Regions from separate parts of the Homo sapiens genome. Here regions 2 and 3 are each linked to region 1. Evidence: fine-mapped expression QTL. A gene starts in region 1. Each other region holds a variant in brackets. All regions are shown on one strand. Distances are from middle to middle. Region 1 holds the start of CACNB2-AS1 (CACNB2 antisense RNA 1). Region 2 overlaps ARL5B (ARF like GTPase 5B). Region 3 overlaps CACNB2 (calcium voltage-gated channel auxiliary subunit beta 2).

What was found.
Region 2: its variant is fine-mapped to the expression of CACNB2-AS1 in whole blood (TOPMed, PIP above 0.99).
Region 3: its variant is fine-mapped to the expression of CACNB2-AS1 in skeletal muscle (GTEx, PIP 0.98).

Annotation. Positions count from the first base shown.
Region 1 is chr10:18,534,592-18,542,914 of GRCh38, reverse strand. CACNB2-AS1 (CACNB2 antisense RNA 1) reads left to right here and starts at 3,639. Exons shown (of 3, transcript XR_007062076.1): 1 at 3,639-3,721. CACNB2 (calcium voltage-gated channel auxiliary subunit beta 2) reads right to left here. Exons shown (of 14, transcript NM_201596.3): 12 at 6,719-6,814; 13 at 4,550-4,735; 14 at 1-3,685. The coding sequence ends at 3,191. LOC124902387 (a long non-coding RNA gene) reads left to right here and starts at 8,119. Exons shown (of 2, transcript XR_007062077.1): 1 at 8,119-8,323.
Region 2 is chr10:18,663,561-18,671,883 of GRCh38, reverse strand. It overlaps ARL5B (ARF like GTPase 5B), which reads right to left. Exons shown (of 6, transcript NM_178815.5): 2 at 5,249-5,309; 3 at 3,207-3,354. Among named protein-coding and RNA genes, the nearest start is that of ARL5B, 8.3 kb to the right of the region's middle. The variant A/C (reference allele first, on the strand shown) is at 3,047.
Region 3 is chr10:18,510,143-18,518,465 of GRCh38, reverse strand. CACNB2 (calcium voltage-gated channel auxiliary subunit beta 2) reads right to left here. Exons shown (of 14, transcript NM_201596.3): 7 at 4,097-4,230; 8 at 50-130. It overlaps CACNB2-AS1 (CACNB2 antisense RNA 1), which reads left to right. Exons shown (of 3, transcript XR_007062076.1): 2 at 1-4,064; 3 at 4,806-5,850. Among named protein-coding and RNA genes, the nearest start is that of CACNB2-AS1, 25 kb to the left of the region's middle. The variant G/C (reference allele first, on the strand shown) is at 5,088.

The sequences.
Region 1 (8,323 bases):
AAATGGATATGACCAAAAAAAAAAAAAAAAAAAACTATTAAATACATTTCCAGCATTTTCTAGGTTGACTACAAAAATGGCTCTACAACTGAGTAGGTTAAGGTTAAGCCTTTGTTGTGTGAAAAGACTGTAACTTTACATTCCGCAGGTCAGTAAATATCCCATTGCCCTTGAGATTATTTCCTCATTTACAGATTTACTACACAGTTTACACATATGTCCACTATACAGTTTTTCACATATAGCGGCTCTTATGTCAAATCCTTCAAGCTAGTTCTTTGAGGAATATTCTGATTTGCACTAATATGTTCTACAGTAAAGTGCAAGCTAAGAATCTAGATACAAAATAAAAAAGATGGAAACTCTCACCACTACTTTTTGAAAGGGATTAATGATAGCAGCAAGTAAGATAAATACTAGCTATGTTTCAAGAATTTAAATATTCTAAAATCATTAATTGGGATGAAATAATAAAGGATTGAACTAATAATTGTGAATCTCTTACCATGACAAAAGTTTTATCAGAAATATTTTATAAATTCAATTTTAATTAGAATATGGTTTCCTACCAATGTAAGAATTGTCAAGTTTATTATGACTACTGATTTTATACTCAGTAAATAAATTTATGTAAACAGTGTAGGGCTAATTAACGAACTGAGGGAAATTTTTTCATATATAAGCTGATAAAACATTATATATGTAACTAATTTTTATTTTCTTTTTTTAAACACCAGGTTGTCACCAGGCTGGAGTGCATTGGTACAGTCACGGTTCACTGCAGCCTCCACCTCCTGGGCTCAAGGGATCCTCCTATCTCAGCCTCCCAAGTAGCTGGGTCTACAGGTATACTCTACCACCCCAGCTTAATCATTTTTAATATTGCGTTTTCTTGGGGGTAAGGGAAATAAGGAGTTAAATGTAAAACAGTTTTACTTATAAAAGGCTAAGAATATTTGGTAAGAACTTGGAATAATCAAGGAAGCAAAACAAAGTAGATTTTATAATTTTGCTGGATAGTTTTTTTTGTTTTTTGTTTTTTTTTCTTTTTTGGAGATGGAGTCTCACTCTGTCACCCAGGCTGGAGTACAGTGGTGTGATCTTGGCTTACTGCAGGCTCCACCTCCTGGGTTCAAGCAATTCTCCTGCCTCAGCCTCCCAAGTAGCTGGGATTACAGGTGTGCACCACCACACCTGGCTAATTTTTTATCTTTTTAGTAGAGACGGGGTTTCGCCACGTTGGCCAGGCTGGTCTTGAACTCCTGACCTCAGGTGATCCACCCTCCTCAGCCTCCCAAATTGCTGGGATTACAGGCATGAGCCACTGCGCCCGGCTGATTTATTTTGTTAAATAAGTTAATGTGCAGATCTGAAGTTAGGTAATTATACACAGGCATTTTCCTGGGACAAACTTCAAGTGCCAGGTACTTGCACTCTTAATACTGTCTTACCATCCAGTTATAACTGGACAAAATATACACTTGAGACACGGAAAAGGTCTTAGCCTTAAACATGATGACATTGTAAGCTTCTTACAGCAGTGTAATTGAGGCATGGAGATAATGTCTTCAAGGTTCCCCTTCTGTGTACATGTCTTATGTAGGATAATATTCTTAACATTTTATTCACTTCAAGTCACCCCATTTTGCCCTGATTTCTTCTGAAGAACAGAAACTTTGGTTATAAGAAGCACTTCTGGGTTCTGACAGACAGTGAACCTGCTGGAGTCGGTGGTGGGGAGGAATGGTAGGTAACTGGGAGGTAAACAAACAACAGGAACAATAGGCAAGGTTAGAAATTGAAGTGGGAGAAGTTATAAAAATTTATTTTCCCACGAAATAATTCCACAAGCTGTGTAAACATTTCTTACTAAAACAAATACTCTAACACACAAAGATTGTACATTTCCAGTGAAACACTCACAGTAAAATTGCCTGTATTTTCACTCTCTAGGAGCAAAAACAAGGAGGCAGCAGATGAATGCTTTCCTAGTTACCTTTGGCAGCAAGCTTACTCACATTCCCTGACTGCTCAATGGGTTGTTAAAGCAACATATAGCACAATTAATTAAATACAGAGCGAGGTGGGCAGAATGCTCGATATCAGTCTCTAGTTTCTTCGTTAGTCTTCAGCATTCCAATTCATCTCAACCATTCAGTCACTCGGTGCACACTTTCTTACATACGGACACACACACGTGCATATAGCGAGTTCCGGCTCGTAGACTCCAGTGCAGTGACTAGAACAGACACTAGCTACTAAGAATGTGTCACAATCAGTGTGAACTGTATGGAGTAGAACAACCTCTGGAGTTTTATATTTACCATAATTTATGGTGGAAATTACAAACTTACTTACAAGGATGGTATAACATTCAGAATTCAAACCTTTTCAAGTCAAGCAATCACACATATTTACAGTATGTACACACTTTCTACTAGAATGAGGATAGGTGTCTAGACAATGTTATTACAAATTTCCTGAATGTGGGCATTTCTAGTCCCTGTAATTCATAAAGCAAATCTGCTGACTTGGCATTAAGACTCTAAAATAGTGTGATCAAACTGATATATATATATATTATATATATAATAAGAAGGTGTTTGTTTGCAGAAATAACATTTACAAACTGTCTATACAGTACACAGTACTAGTACATAGAAAATAGATTCTAACTTTATGATCCCCTTTGTGTAAGGCAAGACTGAATCTGTCCCCAAATTTAGTCAGCCAGAGGTACAAGCAAGAAACAGTGGTCCATGAATGAATATGCAAATCAGATGCCTGCGTATTAACGTATTAAAAATCTGGAGAAACAAGAAATTCCACTTTTTATCTGTGCTGATTCTGGCTTGTTGGATACATCAACTACATTTCTTAAAACACTAACATCACCTGGGTGGCAACAGATTTTGTTCAAGTGGCAGCTACCCAAAACAGTTTTTGAAGAGTCCAGTATGCAACCGGAGGACTGCAGCCATACCAGGCCAATTTATGTAGCACTTACAAAAGAAAAAGTATCTCAATACTCTATCCATGCTATTGCTATTCAAGCAACAGCAATAATACAAAATATTACAAGACAGATCACATATGATTGCAGTGTAGACCCCAAAGACTTTGTTTTGGGGATGCTGTTAGTTATACAAGACTTCAAAAAAAAAAAAAAAAAAACACAAACGGGCAAAACTCATTGGCGGATGTAAACATCCCTGTTCCACTCCCCAGCCTCATTCCGTTTTTTTGATATCACTTCTCCATCCTTTTCACAGTAGCGATCCTTGGATTTATGACGGCTGCGCTGCTTGTTGCACTCGTTGTGGTCCTGCTCTCGATCCACGTCCCGGGAACGGTGCCGGGACTCCCTGTGTCTGTGGTCACTGCTCCCGTGGGTCTCGTCTCTGTGGTTGTGGTCACGGTGTGAGGCATAGTGGTCCACGTGGTCATGGGAATAATCTTCCTTTGGCTCTACGTAGGCAGAGTCTCGACTCTCCTGGGTTTCCGAGTCAAATGTCTCTTGCCTGGAGAGGCCGCGACTTGTCCCACTGCGATGGTTGTGGTGTGGGGCTGAGGAGGAAGAGCGGTGCTGGGATTTCTTGACTGGTTCCACACTAGGTTCTTCTTCAGCTTGGGAAGCAGAACGGATAGGAGCGGAGCGATCAGTCCTCTGATCACCTTGAGAACCCTGGCAGCGAAAGGAGCACACCAGGCGTTAACCAAGGTCAGTGTGTAAAGAACATGTCCCAGAGCAAGTGCATTCAAGCAGAGTCCTTTTTAAGCATCCGAAAAGCTGAAATGAAGTCTAACCTAGCTTCATCCCTTTGGTAACATCCAGTGGCATTTATAAGGCTTTATACTATACTATATTAAATTGGACTTTTGTAAGTGCCTAGAACAGTGCCCATGGTAACTTTTTCCTTTAAAAAAAAAAAAGCAGCAGCAGGGAAAATGTTCTTTTATTTATTCTCCTGTGGCTCAAATACAGATGCAGGTCCCTGAGATTTTTCTATACAGCGGTGTAAACTTAACTACCTCTGCTTGACTGTATGTGAGAATATTAAAAATAGCAAATGCTTACCTGATACAGTGATACAGTATGGGACAGGCACTGTTCTGTAGACCCTTTGTATATAATAACTCATTAATACAACAGCCCTATAAGATCATCTCTTGAGATTATTAATTCCAGCAGCCTCTTGGACAGGTTGCCATTATTATTCCTGAGGTAAGAACAGTTAAGAAATTTGCCCCAGGTTATCCACCCCACAAGTGGTAAGAGGTGCAGCCAGGATTTGAATCTAGGTGATCCACTTCCACAGTCTATGCTACTGTTTAGAAAGTTTCGGTAGTCTGTGTATGTTCCCAATATATTCTGTTGATGGTGCTTTTCTTACAGGTACATACACAGCTCATGCTGGACTTGCTTTGAGTTAATATACTAGAACAAGCCCCAAGCAGGCTACTGGGCTTGGATCCTAGAGGTGTCACCATAGGCAACCTTTTTTCTATGAAGATTGTATATATAGATATATATAAAAACTCCCCTTACCTGTGAATTAGAGGCTAGGGTGGGGCTAAGAGGCAGACTTGAAGTGGCTAATGTACGGCTAAGGAGAGGGTTGGGGAGGCTACTGCTGGGAGGATGGGTGGCCTTCCAGTAGGCCTCCAGATAGTCGGCAAGGTGCTCACAGGCATCCTCAAGCTGGTTCTCATCCAAGATCACATCGAACAGCTCCTGCAGAGGCAGACATTCCAGACCACATTGATGCCAGCCCAGTTTTCACCCCCTTCCCACCTCCATAAGAGGAGGAAGGGGCTCATGAGCTGCACCCCTTTGTACTTGCTCCTGCTTCTATAAGTGCTGCTACTATCTCCCTTTTTATTTAGTTAGGAAGTGTCTGACTACCTCAAATCATTGTTGAGGGCACTGAATGCTTAACTAATAAATAATGGCCAGAAAGGTAACAGTTGTTAAGGACATGGCAACCCAGAAAAGTTGTCTATCAATCAGCAATGAAAAAGGCATAGATACTATGGTAGAAAAGAGATGTATATATATTTGAACAGAATAGAATAGAATAGGAAGAAGCCTGTTCTTGACATAAAGATTGTGATATCTTTTTTCTTTTTCTTTTTTTGAGACAGAGTCTTACTCTGTTACCCAGGCTGGAGTGCAGTGGCCTGATCTTGGTTCAGTGCAACCTTGGCCTCCCAGGTTCAAGTGATTTTCCTGCCTCAGCTTCTCAAGTAGCTGGGGTTACAGGTGCCTACCACCAAGCCCTGCTAATTTTTGTATTTTTAGTAGAGATGGGGTTTTGCCATGTTGGCCAGGCTGGTGTTGAACTCCTGGCCTCAAGTGATTCACCCGCCTCGGCCTCCCAAAGTGCTGGGATTACAGGTATGAGCCACCATGCCCGGCCCAAGATTATGAAATCTGAATTTAGAAATTAATAAGGTAAGATTAGGATGTGAAATTTTGACATTGTCCAAACTTCACAGTAGTTCAGTAGAGAAGAAAATAATGCCACTTTTCAAAAGATTTTTTAGTGTTTATTATAAATTTTAACATATATTAAGCAATCAAATATTTATAGACCCTGAAATGGCTATGCTTAAAAAGAAAAAAAAGCCTGGTGCAGTGGCTCATGCCTGTAATCCCAGCACTTTGGGAGGCCAAGGTGGATGGATCACTTGAGGTCGGGAGTTTGAGACCAGCCTGGGCAACATGGCAAAGCCCCGTCTCTACTAAGAATACAAAAATTAGCAGGGCATGGTGGCGTTTGCCTGTAGTCCTAGCTACTTGGAGGGCCGAGGTGGGAGGATTACTTGAGCCCGGGAGGCAGAGGTTGCAATAGTGAGCTGAGACACCACCACTGCACTCCTGCCTGGGCAACAAAGCAAGACCCTGCCTCCAAAACTAAACCTAGGAAAGCTCTAATACCTCAAGGCATTGCATGTAAAGCATAGACGACAAGTGAGAATCTAGGTAACTTATTACTTAGAAATTGATTTGAGACCATGTGAAAATAAATGTCTCAGACAGTTATTAAGAGCAGACAACTTGATCCCTATGATCAGAAATGAATAATATACCAACTCCAAATAGACTCATCATACAAGCCAAATTTTCGGAACCAGGATCTTGTGTTGGATATTAACAAAGTGAAGTTACTGCAGGATGTACGGAAGCTTTTGGTAAGCTATGATCATCGTTTGGATTACTTGTGCTCAAAACACATGATCATGGAAGGAGGGAGGACAGTTTACTTTGGAATGAATACCACTGTAAGTGATGAGGATTCTCTTCCCTGACAGGTGTTTGACTGTTTTTTTCAAAATATAATGCCAGTTCTGGCCAGGCATGGCAGCTCATGCTTGTAATCCTAGCACTTTGGAAGACCAAGGCAGGAGGATCACTTCAGGCCAGGAGTTCTAGACCAGCCTGGGCAACATAGCAAGACCCCGTCTCTACAGGGGGAAAAAAAAAAGTTAGCCGATCATGGTGGCATGCACCTATAGTCTCAGCTGCTTGGAAGGCTGAAGCAATAGGATCACTTGAGCCCGGGAGTTCAGGGCTGCAGTGAGCTAAGACCATACCACTGCACTCCCAACATGGGCAACAGAGCAAGACCTTGTCCCCCAAAAAAAAAAAAAAAAAAAAAAAAAAAAAAGGTCTGATCTCTGTAACTGGATTATGCTGTATATAGAGATAACTTACTGGAGGACACTGAGCCAGTTTATCAGCTGCTACCATCTGGACGTTGAGGTGTTTAGCTTGAGATTTCCCTCGAGATTTTATTAACCTTTGTAAAACCTGTAAAAGATAATGAGTTTTTAACAGAGTAATAACTACATCCAGGTAAAGTACAAGGTACATTATTGACTCCTTTCTCTGGGGCCTTTTTATATACAGCACAAGGGGCTTATAATAGATGGAGCTATAAGATTATCTGCAAAATTAACATGTTAACATAAATCACAGTTGCAAGCTTTAAGCACTCACATTTTTTCTATGCTAGCAGCTCTCAAACATTTTATCTCACAACCTCTTTAAAGAAGCTAAAATGGAAAACTATTAAAACATTTATTTAAAAATTCACAATAAATCTGATACATGTTAAAATATATATATATATATTTTTGAGATGTAGTCTCGCTCTGTTGCCCAGGCTGGAGTGCAGTGGTGCGATCTCGGCTCACTGCAAGCTCCACCTCCCAGGTTCACACCATTCTCCTGCCTCAGCCTCCCAAGTAGCTAGGACTACAGGCACCCGCCACCACGCCCGGCTAATTTTTTTGTATTTTTAGTAGAGACGGGGTTTCACTGTGTTAGCCAGGATGGTCTCGATCTCCTGACCTCATGATCCTCCCACCTCAGCCTAGTAGAGTGCTGGGATTACAGGTATGAGCCACTGCGCCCGGCCGAATTTTTTTTAATAAAAATAGCTACATTTTTACACATCTCTCTAATGGCTGGCTGGCTGGCTTCATAGAAGACAATTGCAGTCTCCTGTTTGCTTCTACAGTCAACCTGCTGCAATGTCATGTTTTGGTTGAAATACGTGAAGAAAATCCAACCTCCTACAGATTTGTAATTGAGAAAAGGAGAAACAATTTAGTATAGTCTTCTTTGATACTACACTAAAACTCAACAAATGGTGGTTCCTTAAAGACTATTTGTTATGTGGAATCTGAACCTGCAGTGCAATTTTCTTACTCCATGACATTCCATTGGTCTGTCTTGAAAATTAATGTTATTCATTGATCATACAAACAATAATGGTTCACTGACTTCAGATCTTCCAAATGTTGACATATTTCATTATACATTATTAAAACATCATATTCATTAATATTACCATTGATCTCAGAGAAAACTTTATTGGGAAGCTTGCAAGTTCTCAGAGATGCATACAAGTTTTCTAAAATTCTGATTGTTGTCTGAAAGCTTGAGTTTTATCATTGGCAACACATGCTGTTCTCCTTTAAGTGACAGGCTTATTTTGTCCAAGAAAATATCTGCTACACCAAGTCGGAATAAGCATAGCCTGTCAGTTGTTGTTTGAGATAAAAATGGTATTCTATGAAAAACATGGCTAGTTTAGTTCACAACTCAATCAAACCAGTGCTTGTCCTTACTTTTTGGTATACAGCAGGAGCTTTGTGTGTACTTTGTTTTAGTACACTGAATATTAAAAGTCAAGATTTAATAAAAGTAATAAACTTTACTACTTTATAAGGACATTAAGTGAAATTGGCTTTTTTTCCCCTCAAACTGCGAAAGCATGGTGGCGGTGAATACAGTAACTGCTGGTACTTTGAT
Region 2 (8,323 bases), 130 kb before region 1:
GCCCAGGAGTTTGAGACTAGCTTGGGCAACATAGTGAGAACCTGTCTCTCTACAAAAAATAAAAATTAGCCATGCACATAGTCCCACCTACTTGGGAGGCTAAGGTGGGAGGACTGCTTTGAGCCTAGGAAGTTGAGGCTGTACTGAGAATCATGCAACTACACTCCAGCCTGGGTGAGAGAGAGGCCCTAACTCATTTTTTAAAAAATGTGGGGGGTGGGTGAGGGGGAGGAGGAGGAGGAGATGGAGGAGATGATACAGCGAAAAAGCACCCTTAAGCTGAACACTGTATACAGAATAAAAAGTTAAGAAATGAGATGAAATGATGTTATTACAGCAGGAGATAGATGCAAAATAAACTGAGACATGAAGGGTAGAATTAGATTACAGAGATGACTTTAAAATTAGGGAAACAGGCTAGGTGCAGTGGCTCACACCTGTAATCCCAGCACTTTGGTAGGCCGAGGTGGGCATATCACTTGAGGACAGTTCAAGACCAACCTGGCCAACATGGTGAAACCCTGTCTCTATTAAAAACACAAAAATCAGCCAGGTGTGGTGGTGTGTACTGTAGTCCCTGCTACTTCGGAGGCTGAGGGAGGAGAATCCTTTGAACCTGGGAGGCGGAGGCTGCACTGCTCTCCAGCCTGGGTGACAGACTGAGACTCCATCTCAAAAAAATAAATAAATAAAAAACAAAAATAAATAAAATTAGGGAAACAGACAACTAATCTGAATATAAACTGAGTTGGGCTTAGAAGGGAATAAACGGAAAGAATGTCGCGTGGCAAAGGAGGAATCAACAGAATATGGGAAACAACTGTGAGTTAATGAGAGGAAGGTGTCAATAATTACTTAATACCTGTAACTTCTTGTATTATAATGGACATACTACCGCTTTTGGGGGACTCTTCCACGTGAAGAATTTTCAAAATGCAAAGTGACAGGCGCCACTGTTCTTTGTAGTAATTTTGATATTCTTGTAGAGATCACTTATTAAAAGAACGTTTCATGCAAATGGCATCAGTAATGGATATCTCTTTCTGGACCCATGCTAAGTCCTCCAGAGTTTCAGTCACTTCAAGAACTACCCTTTCGACACACTTTAAGTACATATGGATTCACTAGAATCAACTTTGACCTATTCATCAATGATAACTGCCCTTTTCACAGCTGGAGTTAACTGTGAGCTTAAAACTACTAACAGCTCTGATGTTTAAATTAATCATATGCTACAATGTCATTTGTCCCTTACTTTCTTTTCTTTTTTTTTGAGAGAGAGCGAGACTCTGCCACCCAGGCTGGAGTGCAGTGGTGCTATCTCAGCTCACTGCCACCTCCGCCTCCCAGGTTCAAGCGATTCTCATGCCTCAGCCTCTGGAGTAGCTGGGACTACAGGCACATGCCACCATGCCTGGCTAATTTTTGTATTTTTAGTAGAGATGGGGTTTTGCCATGTTGGCCATGCTGGTCTTGAACTCCTGGCCTCAAGCAATCTGCCCACCTCGGCCTACCAAAGTGCTGGGATTACAGAAGTGAGCCACTGCGCCTGGCCCTTCCCTTACTTTCTAACTTATTCTAGTTTCAGAACATTATTTTACTGTATAAATGTATAAGCTACCCTTTAACTATATTATTTGCTTACAGCTTCTGCATACCCAATAAAATAATTCAGTGCTACCACAAGTTCTGATTATCTATGATACGCCATCTTTGTTTACTTACACGTTGCATTGGAATATATACACACATACACACATGCTATTATAATATAAATCTAGAACAATACATGTTTTTTAAAGAGGCAACTTTGTTCACCAAAAATTATTCATATTATATCCTTTTCTACCTCTTCCCTTCCAACTCCAATTTTTTTTTTTTTTTTTTTTGAGATAAGAGTCTCGTTTTGTCACCCAGGCTGGAGTGCAGTGGTGCCACCTCGGCTCACTGCAAACTCTGCCTCCTGGGTTCAAGCGATTCTCCTGCCTCAGCCTCCTGAGTAGCTGGGGACTACAAGTCTGCCCCACCACGCCCGGCTAGTTTTTTGTATTTTTAGTAGAGACGGGGTTTCACCTGTGTTAGCCAGGATGGCCTCAATCTCCTGACCTCATGATCCACCCGCCTCGGCCTCCCAAAGTGCTGGGATTACAGGCGTGAGCCACCGTGTCTGGCCCAACTCCAATTTTTAAAAGGTTTCATTTTAGAAAAAAATAATTGGTTAGGTGTACTTCTTTGCAAAGAACAATTAAATGGATGCAATTGTGAAATCATACTATCAAGGATAAATCTCTCTAAACTACATTGAATGGCTTTTAAAAAAATCTGCCTCTAATAAGAAATAAAAGCAGAAATAGAACATGAATATATCCAGGTTTGTTCCCCAAGTTAGCTCTGAACTCATAAGTGGCAGAGAACTTTGAGAGATGATTTGCAAATCTACTTTTTTCTAATTAAAAAAAAATCTACCAACATTTTGAATGTTCATGGTATAAAAAATTTTTAAATTAATAAAATATTTTATTCCTCCACCGGTCAGGGTCTCTTAGAAAGTTGTGAGATCTTGGGGAAACCTACATAATATCTCCACGTGTCAGATCTCTCCAACCCTGGAGACATGAAAATCTTGTGAAGATGAATGGAGAGAACCTGGCCAAACAGTAAGCACTCAAGTAATAATAGCTCCAAACAATCTTTCTATTTGCCTTTTCTTTTATTCGAAAACCCAAATTCTTAAGTCTCATTTATGAAATTTTTATTTATTTATTTTTTAAAAAAAGGAAACCCAAATTCCCTACAAAAAAGGATCTTATTAAAAGGCCGGCCACGGTGGCTCAAGCCTGTAATCCCAGCACTTTGGGAGGCCAAGGAGGGTGGATCACGAGGTCCCGAATTCAAGACCAACCTGATCAATATGGTGAAACCCCGGTCTCTACTAAACATACAAAAATTAGCCGGGTGTGGTGGCACTCGCCTGTAATTCCTGCTATTTGGGAGGCTGAGGCAGGAGAATGGCTTGAACTCAGCAGGCGGAGCTTGCAGCGAGCCA[A/C]GATCACTCCACTGCACTCTAGCCTGGCGACAGAGCAAGACTCCGTCTTAAAAAAAAAAAAAAAAAAGGCAACTGTCAATACGCCCAGGTGCAGCCTAATTACTTTCTATGTTTACTCTAGGGACCTTTGGATTAAAATTCAAAATTCATCTTAGCATACCTCTGTATTTGAGTAATATGTGTTCCAGGATGATCGCAGAGACTCCTGACCACCAATATCCCACATAAGAAAATGAGTGTTCTTCACAACTATTTCTTCAACATTGCTTCCTATGGTTGGAGAAGTATGAACCACTTCATTCATTAAGCTGTTGAAAAACAGACACCGTAAAAGCTCTTGTAAATCTTGAGAATCTGAAGCAACTTTTATCTCTGTATTTTTAAGATCAATCAACCTTCTGCACCAATGATGGTGATCATTAGCATGAAAATTATAAACCTGGAGAACACTTGCGCAAATCAATATCTAGATAACAACTCCAGAAGAAAGACTTGTTTCTTGTTTGTTTTTTTTTTTAACGGAAGGAATTGCAAGCTTGATGGAAAAGAAAGGAAACAGTGTGGTGTGAATTTGCATTTCTGTGGCCAAAAATTCCAATACCACCATGCCCTGTTATCAGTTAGATAAGACCCAATGTCCCATGCCATCCTGAAAAGCAAGTTTCTAGGTGATTGCAAAATAGCAAATATTGGATAGCAGGCTATCTATAATTTTGAAGACTGTCTAAATTGAGACTTAGTCACAAAAATTAATTCAGGCATATTAATCTAAAGTAGTCCTAAAAAGATGACCATGGGCAAGTAAAAATTTAAATTAACTATAGATATATTTAGAAGGCCAGGTGTGGTGGCTCACACCTATAATTCTAGCACTTTGGGTGGATCACCTGAGGTCAAGAACTTGAGACCATCCTGACCAACATGGTGAAGCCTCGTCTCTACTAAAAATACAAAAATTTGCAGGGCGTGGTGGTGGGCGCTTGTAATCCCAGCTACTCTGGAAGCTGAGGCAGGAGAACCGCCTGAACCTGGGAGGTGGAGATCACGCCATTGCACTCCACCCTTAGAAACAGAGCAAAACTCTGTCTCAAATATGTGTGTGTGTGTGTTTGTGTGTGTGTGTATATATATATATATATATTTAGAATACTGATGCTCATACCCCTCGTATTATCATAATCATTGGTAAAGCTACATTAATCAATTAATTCAACAAATATGCCCTTGCCAGTAACATGTCACTACTGTGTTGGAGGAGGCTTGCAATTCTCTTGGGTTTTATGTATATTTTTGAAGCCATGTGTAAAATTATTTCAACAAAGATGACAGGTTTCTGAAATGTTTATATGTGATGTTTAAAAGCTAATTCATATTTAAACACATAATCACCAATGAATGAAAATGTTTTCAAGAGAAACAAGTAGTTGTTCAACTCTGAAACAACAAACTTTAAGTCAGTAGCTTTTTAGCAAAGTAGCTGAAAAATGCGTTAATCACTGGCTAATGAAGTACTTCTGGTGAGCTGATGGCTGTCTTCTAATGCAACATGAGTGGGAAGAGGTAAGAGCCACACAATGGGGCAAAGAACTGTAGAACTATTTTGTTAAAGTGCCTGGTAGATCCACTTCTACTGCTTAATACTATCATTTCATTGGCATTGAAAGGATAATGGAAGGTACTCTGACAAGTGGAATGATGAGCTGTGAAAATTTCCTAAGGTATTAACAGATTTCTCTGAAAGTCTCAAGACTCTCCCTCTTGCAAGCTACTACAGCAATATTTTCAGGAGTGATCACATTTCTTTTGACAAGTCTGGCTATGTTAAAAAATTCCAAAGCTATTAGTCAGGAGGGTAGCAATGGCTTCCTAGAGCTATCAATTTATTTACATAAACCCAAGTGGGGTAAGAACTAAGTGAAATCCACTTTATCACCTCACCCCAGCACTTCTAATATGCGCTTTATTTATTTAATATTAATTTCTTTCTTTCGAGGGCAGAAAACAATAAGTGTTTGTGAAGGGTTTAGCAAATGTTTATTTCACTCACTTTTCTATAGATTGTGTTCGGTAAAATTAAAAAAACAAAAAACAAAAAACATATATTTAAGTTTTTCCGTCATTATTATAATGCATCTCTTATTAATTGTAAACACATTAGTTTCAATAACTAGTGAAAACTGTTTAATAAACACCCATACTTACAATTGGTAAAGAATGGTGGTTTTCCCTGCATTATCCAGTCCCACTATAATTACTTTGTGTTCTACAAAAAGAAAGCAAATCATAAACATTTAACACTACTGCATTACTGCAATTACATGCTTTCAACAATGATTATTAGTTAGCTCATTAATGAGAATCATTCACTGAATATCTATCACTAGACTTAAAATGCAGAAAGAAATGTTATGATGTTAAGGCTACCTAGGTTAAGTAACAAAATCAATTATCATTGATTCTCTGTCTAGTTCTCATGTAAAAGAATGTGGGAGATGGGTAGGCAGGAAACACCAGCAAAGTTGGTCACTTATATTGCATCTAGGGGAGAGGAGACCCAAATATTAATCTAGGCAAAAATTATAACCTAAATGTAAGTTTTTTAAAAAGCCTGTTTTACACACCTTTTTAGCTCTGTACCAATCAAGTTAGCTTTTTATCAAAATGTTTTCATATCTGTAAGTTTCCCCACCTATGTATACCAGGATCTGTTTCTTCCTCTCACTTAAAAATCCCATGTAAGCTTAAAATTGAAACGTTTCATGTGTCACAAAGACAAACATATACTCTCAAGTTTTTACACAATTACTCATTGTTTAACATTTTTTCAACCGGCTTCTACAGTTCTTTTGAGCAGATTCTGTTTCTGCTCTTTGTACAATGAAAATCTCTTCAGTTCTTTCCTCCTTTGGGTGCCATGCACTAAATATTCACCTCTTTTAATAAGTAGTTGCTAAAGCTCATCTAATTATTCCGTTAAGTGGTATATATTCTGCAATGTCCTTTGAATACAGAAAACAACCCAGATACCATCTTTCCTAGATTTTCACTTATGCCAAGTATACTAAAGATCCCCTTCTCCAAGGCAGAAGAATGCTTAAAAAGTTACAAGTTAACATCAACAGGGTAAGTAGGGAAGTTTCCACAGAATCACAACACAGTTGATTTGTAGGCAACGATTGGGCACATCTCATATCAGAATCCCGCTCTTCTTGATGACCTCTGGTGAATGTCAACATTCTGGTCATATAATCAACTATCAGCTCATATTCCTACTCTGAAGTTCTAAACTTCATCAGCCAAAAAAAGAGGGACCAAGAAAATTTAAGTTCTTGAGATGTGCAGGTCTTCCAATGACCTACACACTCTAGATACAGCCTATTACAGTGCAGGATAAACAGACACGGTCCTCTGGAAGGGCTATTTTCACTATGGTAGAAGCTGCTTTGTAAAACAAAACAAAACTTGCCTGCTTAGTATAACTCACTATAATTCTCCTTATTTATTTGAGACAGGGTCTTGCTTTGTTGCCCAGGCTGGAGTGCAGGGGCATGATCACTGCAGCCTCGACCTCCCAGGCTCAAGTGATCCTCCTACCTGAACCTCCTGAATAGCTGGGACCACAGGTGCACACCACCAAGCTTGGCTACATGTCCTCTAATGAAGCTAATCTTTAAGTATTACCCTGTTTGTTATCCCTTAAAGTACAAGAACCTTTATCAGTGAGGAACAAACAGACTGCCTGGCACTAAGCATTCTAAATTTTGGTGACAGCTAGAAGCTCCACCTACCAAGCATCTACAGAAAACAACATGCCTGCAGTGGTGAGAAGGAAGCCACTAGTTTAAAGATAAGCAAAACTTGAAGGCAGATAATCCTGTTGGGAGAAAGGAATGGAAGGACAGTACCAGATGGCTCCTTCTTGAAGCAACTCAAATGAAGACCCAGGTCATTTGCAAACAATCCTGCTCCTTGCTTCACTTTTGCACTATGATGCTTCACATAATACTGAAGGCCTGTGATGGTAAAACTCACCAATAATGCACCATTTTGAAAGGTAGGTCCCTAACATGAGGAAATGTTAGGTTAAGACACTACTGTTAGGCCAGGCGTGGTGCCTTACGCCTGTAATCTTAGCACTTTGGGAGGCCGAGGTGGGAGGATCACGAGGTCAGGAGATCAAGACCATCCTGGCTAACACGGTGAAACCCTGTCTCTACAAAAAATACAAAAAAATTAGCCGGGCATGGTGGCGGGTGCCTGTAGTCCCAGCTACTTGGGAGGTTGAAGCAGAAGAATGGCATGAACCCGGAAGACGGAGCTTGCGGTGAGCCGAGATCGGGTCACTGTGCTCCAGCCTGGGCAACAGAGCGAGACTCCATCTCAAAAAAAAAAAAAAAAAAAAAAAAAAGACACTACTGTTACTATCAGTTACAGTAAATCAGAATGTTTTAGGCCAGGTGCAATGACTCACACCTGTAATTCCAACACTTTGGGAGGCCAAGGAGAAGTGATCAGTTAAATCTAGGAGTTTGAGACCAAACTGGGCAATACAGTAATATCCCATCTCTTAAGAAAAAAGTTAGCCAGGTCAGGCATGGTGGCTCACACCTGTAATCCCAGCACTTCAGTAGGCTGAGGTGGGCAGACCACAAGGTCAGGAGTTCAAGACCAACCTGGCTAATTTGGTGAAACTCCGTCTCTACTAAAAATACAAAACTTAGCCGGGCATGGTGGCAGGTGCCTATAGTCCTAGTTACTTGGGAGGCTGAGGCAGGAGAATCACTTGAACCTGGGAGGCAGAGGTGGCAGTGAGCTGAGATTGCACCACTGCACTCCAGCCTGGTGACAGAGCAACACTCCGTCTCAAACAAAACAAAACAAAACAAAAACAAAGAATGGTCTGGAAGACAGGATGCAGATAGATGATAAGTTTAAGTTTAGTGTGTTTGAAACCTGCTTACAGTCCAGAGTTAAGAGCAGAATAAGCTGGGGCCGGGCGCAGTAGCTCACACCTGTAATCCCAGCACTTTGGGAGGCCGAGGTGGGAGGATCACAAGGTCAGGAGATCGAGACCATCCTAGCTAACATGGTGAAACCCCGTCTCTACTAAAAATACAGAAAATCAGCCGGGCGTGGTGGCAGACACCTGTAGTCCCAGCTACTTGGGAGGCTGAGGCAGGAGAATGGCATGAACCCGGGAGGCAGAGCTTGCAGTGAGCCGAGATAACGCCACTGCACTCCAGCCTGGGCGACAGAGAGAGACTCCATCTCAAAAAA
Region 3 (8,323 bases), 24 kb after region 1:
AAGAAGTTCAGCATGCAAGTTAAGCTTCCTGTGGAAGGCTGCTACCCACCTCGTAGCCCTTCAGAGAAGGGCCCACTAGGACCACTGGTCGCATGGAAGGTACCACATCATACGGAGGAGTGTGCTCTGTCTGCAGAGAGAGGAGAGGCTTTTAGACGTTTCACAGGCAGGTAGAACATAAATATTTTGTGTATAAGGTACTCTTTCTGAACTCCATAATATGAGGCACTGGCTTTCCAGACATTTTATTTTCCCCACTTGCCTCTTTTCTACATAAACCCAGTCAAAGATTGGTGGGTTCATTTTCCTGAAGTTTCAAGTTACTGTTGTCTACAGTCTTCTTGCTCATCTCAAGAAATGCTACAGACCTATTCGTTCCTAAAGCAAGAGATGCTGCTTTTGAACAAAAACTAGTTGACAGAACAAAGAGAAACATGCCTCATGCAAGATAGGTGCTTTAGGCTTGACTAGAAGTTAATATTGCTTTTCGGCTGCATTTGAATTTTCTAAAGAGTTGTAGTGATTAGACCTAACATGGTTAATTACAGAGGAAAGAAAGATTGCATTACCTTTGCATCTTAGGTTTTTGTCTTACCTGTGTAAAACCTCATTTCAAAATATTATAACTCTCACTACCAATACTTTTTACCTAATCTCAAAATATTGTAACTCTCACTACTGTCAAAATTCTATATTATTGTGAGAGTTTAAATGAACATGCATGCTTATTTTAGTAAACAGTAATCATGATCCCTGCTCACAGCTTAGTGATTAATGCTATTGAATTTTTTGGTTTCTATACCTTGGTACTTCAAAGGTAAGGTTTATGTGTCTTCGAGGGAAGGTGATTAATGTATAATAATATATTCAACCATGCTATTGTGGTCTCAAAAGGTTCATTATCAATGTGCATATCTAATATGATTCTCAAAAGTAGTTTTCTGTCAGATAACTAATGACATCTTTCTGCAGTAAATTATTTCTTTTTAATAAGAGGGGAGGAGCTAAATTTTGTAGCAATTTCTAAAACTGTCAACACTTTTCAGGTTAATTGCTTCAAATAAAATGGTAAAATAACATCTTTCCAAAAATTAGGTAACAGCAAATTGGTTTATATTAAAATTGGCTCTTTTGATAGCATAAAATGCTAAATTGACCCAAAAATGACTTTTTAAAAAAATGCATAAGAGTGATATGGCCTTAGACACTGCGATAAGCAAATCATTGCTATATGAATCTTTCTGGCTAAGGAGTGTCAAAAAATATAACTTGAGAATCACACACACCAACAGAAAAATGTTCTGTAAATGATTTTAAGAATTCAGTACACTGATGTGCAGATATGAATGTCATTTTTGCATCTGCCCGTCACTCAAGAACATTTTATTGTTGCTTAAAATTGCCCATTACAAACTTTTCTGGCTTCATTTGAATTCACATTGCCTCAGGGGAGAATTAAAAAGCATTTCAAATTCAAAAGCTTCCATCTGAGATTTTACCCGTAGTCACAGACGATATAATCAGAGGGAAGAAAAATATTACCATGACTGTGCTGTCAAATTTCACTGCCTAAAATTTCACCTAGCATTCAGAATTAATTTTAATTGACACAATCAAGGTAGAATACAGTTTTGAACAGAAAAAAAAAAAACAAGACAAACATAATACAGTGACAGCACACGTACCACACAAGCACCACTCTAAAAGCAACCTAAAACATAGAAAACGATCTTCTCATTGAATCTCAGGCTGTTGTTTTGTTTTTGAATTCTACATTGATGTTAACCACATTATCAATAACATAAGAAGAATGAATACCAGTGCCGAAGGCATCATAAGCATATTTCTTAAACTATTTCATTTATACCACCTGGGATCATACTGAAAACGTTTAGAAGCCAAGTCCTGATAACTATGCGGTGTAAGAACACCTTTTCCACCGTTGAAATTATGAATGTAAATTTCCTGCATTTTAGTAACAGCTACCAAGAAATTTTATCTCAAGACTTTAATTCTGAAGTGGCCCAGTGTTTGATAGGTCTTTGGTTCCTTCGATCTGTAACTGCCAACTAGCAAAGGGTCACCCGTTGCTGGTAATCAATCAGCTTCTTAATCAATAGGGTAGCTACAGAAATTACCTTATTTGATGGAATATTGGTGCTTTGTGCCCTATGAAGAATGACGCCATCATTTTTATCTACTCTTCCCTGTTAACCCCATTTAGCTTGATTTTTTTTTTCTTTTTTTTGAGACAGAGTTATCTAGCTCTGTTGCCCAGGCCGGAGTGCAGTGGCATGGTCTCGGCTCACTGCAATCTCCGCCTTCCGGGTTTAAGCAATTCTTCTGCCACAGCCTCCCAAGTAGCTGGGATTACAGGTGCCTGCCACCATGCCAGGCTAATTTTTTGTATTTTTAGCAGAGATGAGGTTTCACCATGTTGGCCAGGCTGGTCTCAAAACTCCTGACCACAGGTGATGCACCTGCCTCAGCCTCCTAAAGGGCTGGGATTACAGGTGTGAGCCATTGCGCCCTGCCTGCTCAAATTATTTAGTGAAAAAATTGTGATAAAAGTTTTTAAAGTTTTAGAATTTAAAGGTAAGCAAACTTCACAAACCTATCTTGACAAACAGGGTTTTAGCTCACATTCCTGCTCCGTCAAGGCCCAAATGTCTTAGCGATGCCGATTTTCTAAGCTTCTGAATGATAGACACTGTTAGTCACTTGGCTGCAAGCTTTAGCTGTAACAAGAAGATCGGACCCCAGAAATGGGCCCACTGTTGTGGGTGAACATCAAGCTGAGGCTATGTTAACACAAAAATCCAAGTGTTGCAATTTTTGCCCAGAGTGCTGAAGTTTTCCCTTATTAAAATAATCATAATTGATTCAAAAAAAGCCAACTTTACAGTTCTGTATCTGACACCTCATTAATGACTTGAGTTCCTCCACAAACCAAAATACATGTTTGCAGAGGAAAAGTGTTCATTATGTGGAGAGTTTGGGGGCAGAGGATAGACAGATTTGACATCACATCTGCGTGTGAGAATATATCCATGGTTTTGCCAGACTTGGCGACATTAGTATGATTCTAAAAGACAGCATGGTAGCTGTGGAAACTGATGGGTAAAAGAGGGGAAAAAAAGGGAAATTTGGGGGGAGGTTAGTGGTCCTTAAAAAATAATGCTTTAAAGCTACAAAATGGGTGAGGAAAAGGCTTTGTCTGAAGTAAGGAGAGCTCAGGAATACCCTATAGTTTCCATTTAGGGGACAAGGAGCCTCGCTGTGTAGCATCTTGGATGGCCAATGGCAAAGGCTCTACGCATGACCACTGGCTGCACTGTCCAAAGGGTGAGATGGTAAAATCTGACTGATGGAGAAGGCAAGAACATCGGGAGAATATTTATATATGACAATAGGAAAAACTCACAGTAAACCGCCAAAACAAGCCTGCAGTTTTCCACTGGTCTTGTTCATCTGCAGATTTTGCACCTAGTGGATTAGAAGTTTAAATACTGACTAAATTAAAACTTGAATACTTTTTTTTTTAGTACAAGCTATGTATCTGGATATCATAAGTCAGAATTTAATAACTGCTTTAATATGTTTGATCATAAGTTAAATTTCTGGATAAAAGAAAGAGATAGAATAAGCATGCACAATTTAGGTGCATTATGTGGAGCTGTCAGTGTTTGACATCCCTGAATGTTGAAACAAATTCCCTTGGTGGTAGATATTATTCCATCAAAAAGGATAAGTACTGTAATGGTGTTTTAACAGGTCACTCCCTGAATTTAGTTGGTTTGAAATGCATGAACTCAATTAGCTGTTGATAGGTTCTTTGCTTGGGACAGAAATGATTGTATTTAATACAACTGTGGGAATTAATGCTAATGATGCCAGTGGCAGGATAAACACAGCTTATGTCAATGTAAACTTACCGATTTCTGCTTCTGCTTAGCTACAGCAGCATGGAAAAGAAACAAATAACAGAGCATGCACGTTATTGGCTTATCAAAGGACGCAGACAGTCAACAGGACTAGAAATGTGACGCAGTGCAGTTGAGCAGGTGGACAATGGGAGCTTGGAAGTTAATGTTACCTTCTTAAAGAAGGGCATTCTTTTCTCTTTGGAGTGGGGTGACGTTACACTGTTTGCACTGGGTTTAGGGGAGCGGTGGTTTGCTGGAATATCATTTTCTTCTGCATCTAAGCCAGTAGCATCTATGTCTATAGCTATATACAGACAATTCAAAAATCAGGTGGACAGGAGAGGAAAAATAGGTTATAAAGAAAATAAAATGAAAGCAAATAAAACTAACCATAGTAAAAAAAACTATCATGAGTGCTCAACACAGTACGCAAGAAAATTAAATTTAAAGGTAAGGCACATTAAGAATGCAAGGTAATCAAATCTAATGAAACTGAAAGATACACTTATAATCTGTTTGCTTGAATGAATCAGTTTCATGCTAGACGTCTTGAATATTTTCAGAGAAACATTTTAAATCTGTAGTTTCAAATATAATGTTGATTTTCTCTGTATCAACTGTATAAAAGTGCAGTACAGAACATTTGACTTCATTACAATATCTTAAACCAGCTTTGAGATAACAAACAACTACTTTGAAAACCTTTATTATAGGTGAATGCAAAAGTAATTGCGGTTTTTGCACTGTTGGAATTTGCCATTTGATATTGGAATACATTCTTAAATAAATGTGGTTATGTTATATATCATTTTAATGCGCATTTCTCGCTTTATGCGTTTTTGCTAATGACTTATTACTTGCTGTTTATGTTTATTTTAGACTATGGAAATGATGTCAGACAAAAAGCGAATTTGAGTGACTTTCTTATTCGAGTTCAAAATGGGTCGTAAAGCAGTGGAGACAACTTGCAATATCAACAATGCATTTGGCCCAGGAACTGCTAATGAACGTACAGTGCGGTGGTGGTTCACGAAGCTTTGCAAAGGAGACGAGGGACTTGAAGATGAGGAGCATAGTGGCTGACCATTGGAAGTTGACAGCGACTACTCAAGAACAATAATCAAAGCTGATTCTCTTACAACTACACGAGAAGTTGCTGAA[G/C]AATTCAACATTGACCATTCTATGGTCTTTCTACATTTGAAGCAAATCGGAAAGGTGAAAAAACTCAATAAGTAGGTGCCTCATGAGCCAAGCAAAAATAAATTGTTGTTTGGAAGCATCTTCTCTTATTCTGTGCAACAACAATGAACCATTTCTCAGTCGGATTGTGACGTGGGACGAAAATTGGATTTTATATGACAACCACTGACAACCAGCTCAGCTGTTGGACTGAGAAGCTCCAAAGCCAAACTTGCACCAAAAAAAAAAAAAAAAAAAAGGTTATGGTCACTGTTTGGTGGGCTGCTGCCGGTGTGATCCACTATAGCTTTCTGAATCCCAGCGAAAACATCACATCTGAGAAGTATGCTCAGCAGATCGATGAGATGCAGCGAAAACTGCAACACCTGCAGCCGGCGTCGGTCAACAAAAAGGGCCCAGTTCTTCTCCGTGACAACGCCTGGCTGCACATCACACAACCGGCGCTTCAAAAGTTGAATGAATTGGGCTACGAAGTTTTGCCTCATCCATCATATTCACATGACCTCTTGCCAACCAACTACCATTTCTTCAAGCATCTTGACAACTTTTTGCAGAGAAAATTCTTCCACAACCAGCAGGATGCAGAAAGTGCTTTTCAAGAGTTTGCCGAATCCCAAAGCATGGAGTTTTATGCTACAGGAATAAACACACTTATTTCTCCTTGGCAAAAATGTGTTGATTGTAGTGTTTCCTATTTTGATTAATAAAGATGTATTTAGGCCTAGTTATCATTTAAAATCCATGGTCCGAAACCGCAATTACATTTGCACCAACAATACAATGTGCAAAAAAAGATTTTTCTTTTTGCAGATTTTGTGTAAAAATAAGGACAGTGTGAAAAGTTTCCCTAAAATTGCAACAGACATTTGAGAAAAAGAGAGAATGGAAAATTCTCAATCCAGTCAATGCAAAGGAGTCATACACAAGGCCAATGATTCAGGGAGGGCTCCAGGAAGGACAGGATTAAGATGATTTTAGGCTGATGAAGACTAATGGGAAAACACTGGGTCCCAAGATATCCGAGTGAAATCTGTCTAATAAAATGACATTGGAAGACTTCTGGTGACTTATGCAAAGCCACTGGGTTTAACAAAAGAGGCAGAGTGGAAGGGCACGAGGACCCAAGAGGATATGCCACTGGTTTCCTCATCTGTAAAATGAAAGGTTTAGCTTTGTTGCTTGACATGATTTACTTTTCCCATTGTTCCACCTGAAAATATAGTACTTAAAAAGTGTTACAAGAAAAAAAGATGCATAATCTCACTTCAAATTTTACAAAATCCTTCCACATGCAATTGAAATAGCTACAGAATTTTATCAACTGCAGAGTCAGAGATGGAAATAAAGATCAACTTCAAGGCTCTTATTTTTAAGATTAAAAAACTCAAAATTTAAGGGACTTGTTCTTGGCAAAAACTTGGCAGTCAGGATTCAGACCTACTCCTCCTGCGTAAGTGAGTCTATAACCCTCCGTATACCACAGTGCCCACCTAAATGAGTCTGTAACCGTCCCTATACCACACTGCCCATCCAGGCGAAGTCCCTTCTCAATCTGGGTGCCCTCTTTCAGTTCCCTTCACATCCTCAATGGGGTCATGTCCTTGATGTCAGGAGTCAGGATGACATCATAGAGCTGGACTAGCTAGAAAATTATTCTACGGTTAAGAATCAGTCAAGGAGAAGAAAAAAAATTTACTCACTGCAGGAAAGCATCATATTATACATGTTAGCTCTCTAACAAAAACCACAGTACATTTAGATTGAAGGAAGGAACAAATTACCAGTTTGAAATAACAGACAACTTGGTGTTACAATACAGCTACCATTCCCTGGGATACACAAGCTGAACTGCTCACAGCAGCTTCTTCTAACCTTTTCAAAGGATGGAAGATCATCTGACAGGCATTACATTATTTTTCAGTTTTGAAGTTGTTATGAATATTAAATGAAGCAGCCTTTTGAAAACTAGGCTCTCTTATTTAATTATTCCTTTTCATTTGGTGAGGTAGGAAACCTGTGATGGAGTGAATACCTGCCATTGTTTGTACACTATTACAAATAATCAGCTATTGCTTGCATAATGCAGGAGGTATGATTTTCTATCAAAAAAAAGGTAATAATGGAATTAATTCAGTCCTAATTACGTAGACCTAATATAGTAAGTATGTCTTCCTCTTTGCCCCATCTATGCATACTGATGTGCTAAAAGGTTTAACATGTGGTATGTAGAGAAAACATAAAATGTGCCTAGGGCTTTATCCAGTGCTGACTTTTATACCATCCTATAGCTAATCCTTTGCTCATATAGGAAAGTTTCCTTATGGGGCTTATTGAATGGCATAAGCCAGGCAAGAGTCTCAGAAAACTCTTCAGAAATGTTTTTCCTTGAATCTCAACTCAAGCAGCATGTTGTCAGCGCTTTCCTGGATATGAAGGACAAAATCTGCGTCAGGAATTCATTATTCCTACAATACATGTTAACCAAAATCAAGAGTTTCCTTGCTGGTGGTAAATTCCCACAGGTTTTATCTTTCTCATCTTTTATTGGGCTCATAAAGACCACATTCAAGGGATAGTACCCTTTGAGGGCTCTCCTAAAATGAAGATAACCAGTTGGATGTCAGAATTTACAGGACCCTTGGACAGTCAAGTTCATGAGTTGAATTTTGTGATTTGCCCATTGAATCTAGCCTGCTGTGATCATCAGTTGTATTTTTGTTTTTTAAAATAAGAGTGAGGCTGGGCATGGTGGCTCATGCCTGTAATCCCAGCAGTTTGGGAAGCCATGGTGGGTGGATCACTTGAGGTCAGGAATTCGAGGCCAACCTGGCCAACATGGTAAAATCCTGTCTCTACTAACAATACAAAGATTAGCCAGGTGTGGTGGCCGGTGCCTGTAATCCCAGCTACTTGGGACGCTGAGGTGGGAGAATCACTTGAACCTGGGAGATGGAGGCTTCAGTGAGCTGAGATTGTGCCACTGCACTCCAGCCTGGGTGACAGTGAGACTCCATCTCAAAAAAAAACAAAGAAAGAGTGGAAACGTATACATCTTTGGCTGCAACGTTGCCCAGGTGTTTGGCTTTCCACACACATAGCCTGAGTCAGGTTTGAAATTTACCTGTATCTGGACATGAGGGCTGGATATCCCAAATTGAGAACTTTCTATAATGTACTAGTTCTGACATTTGGTTAAC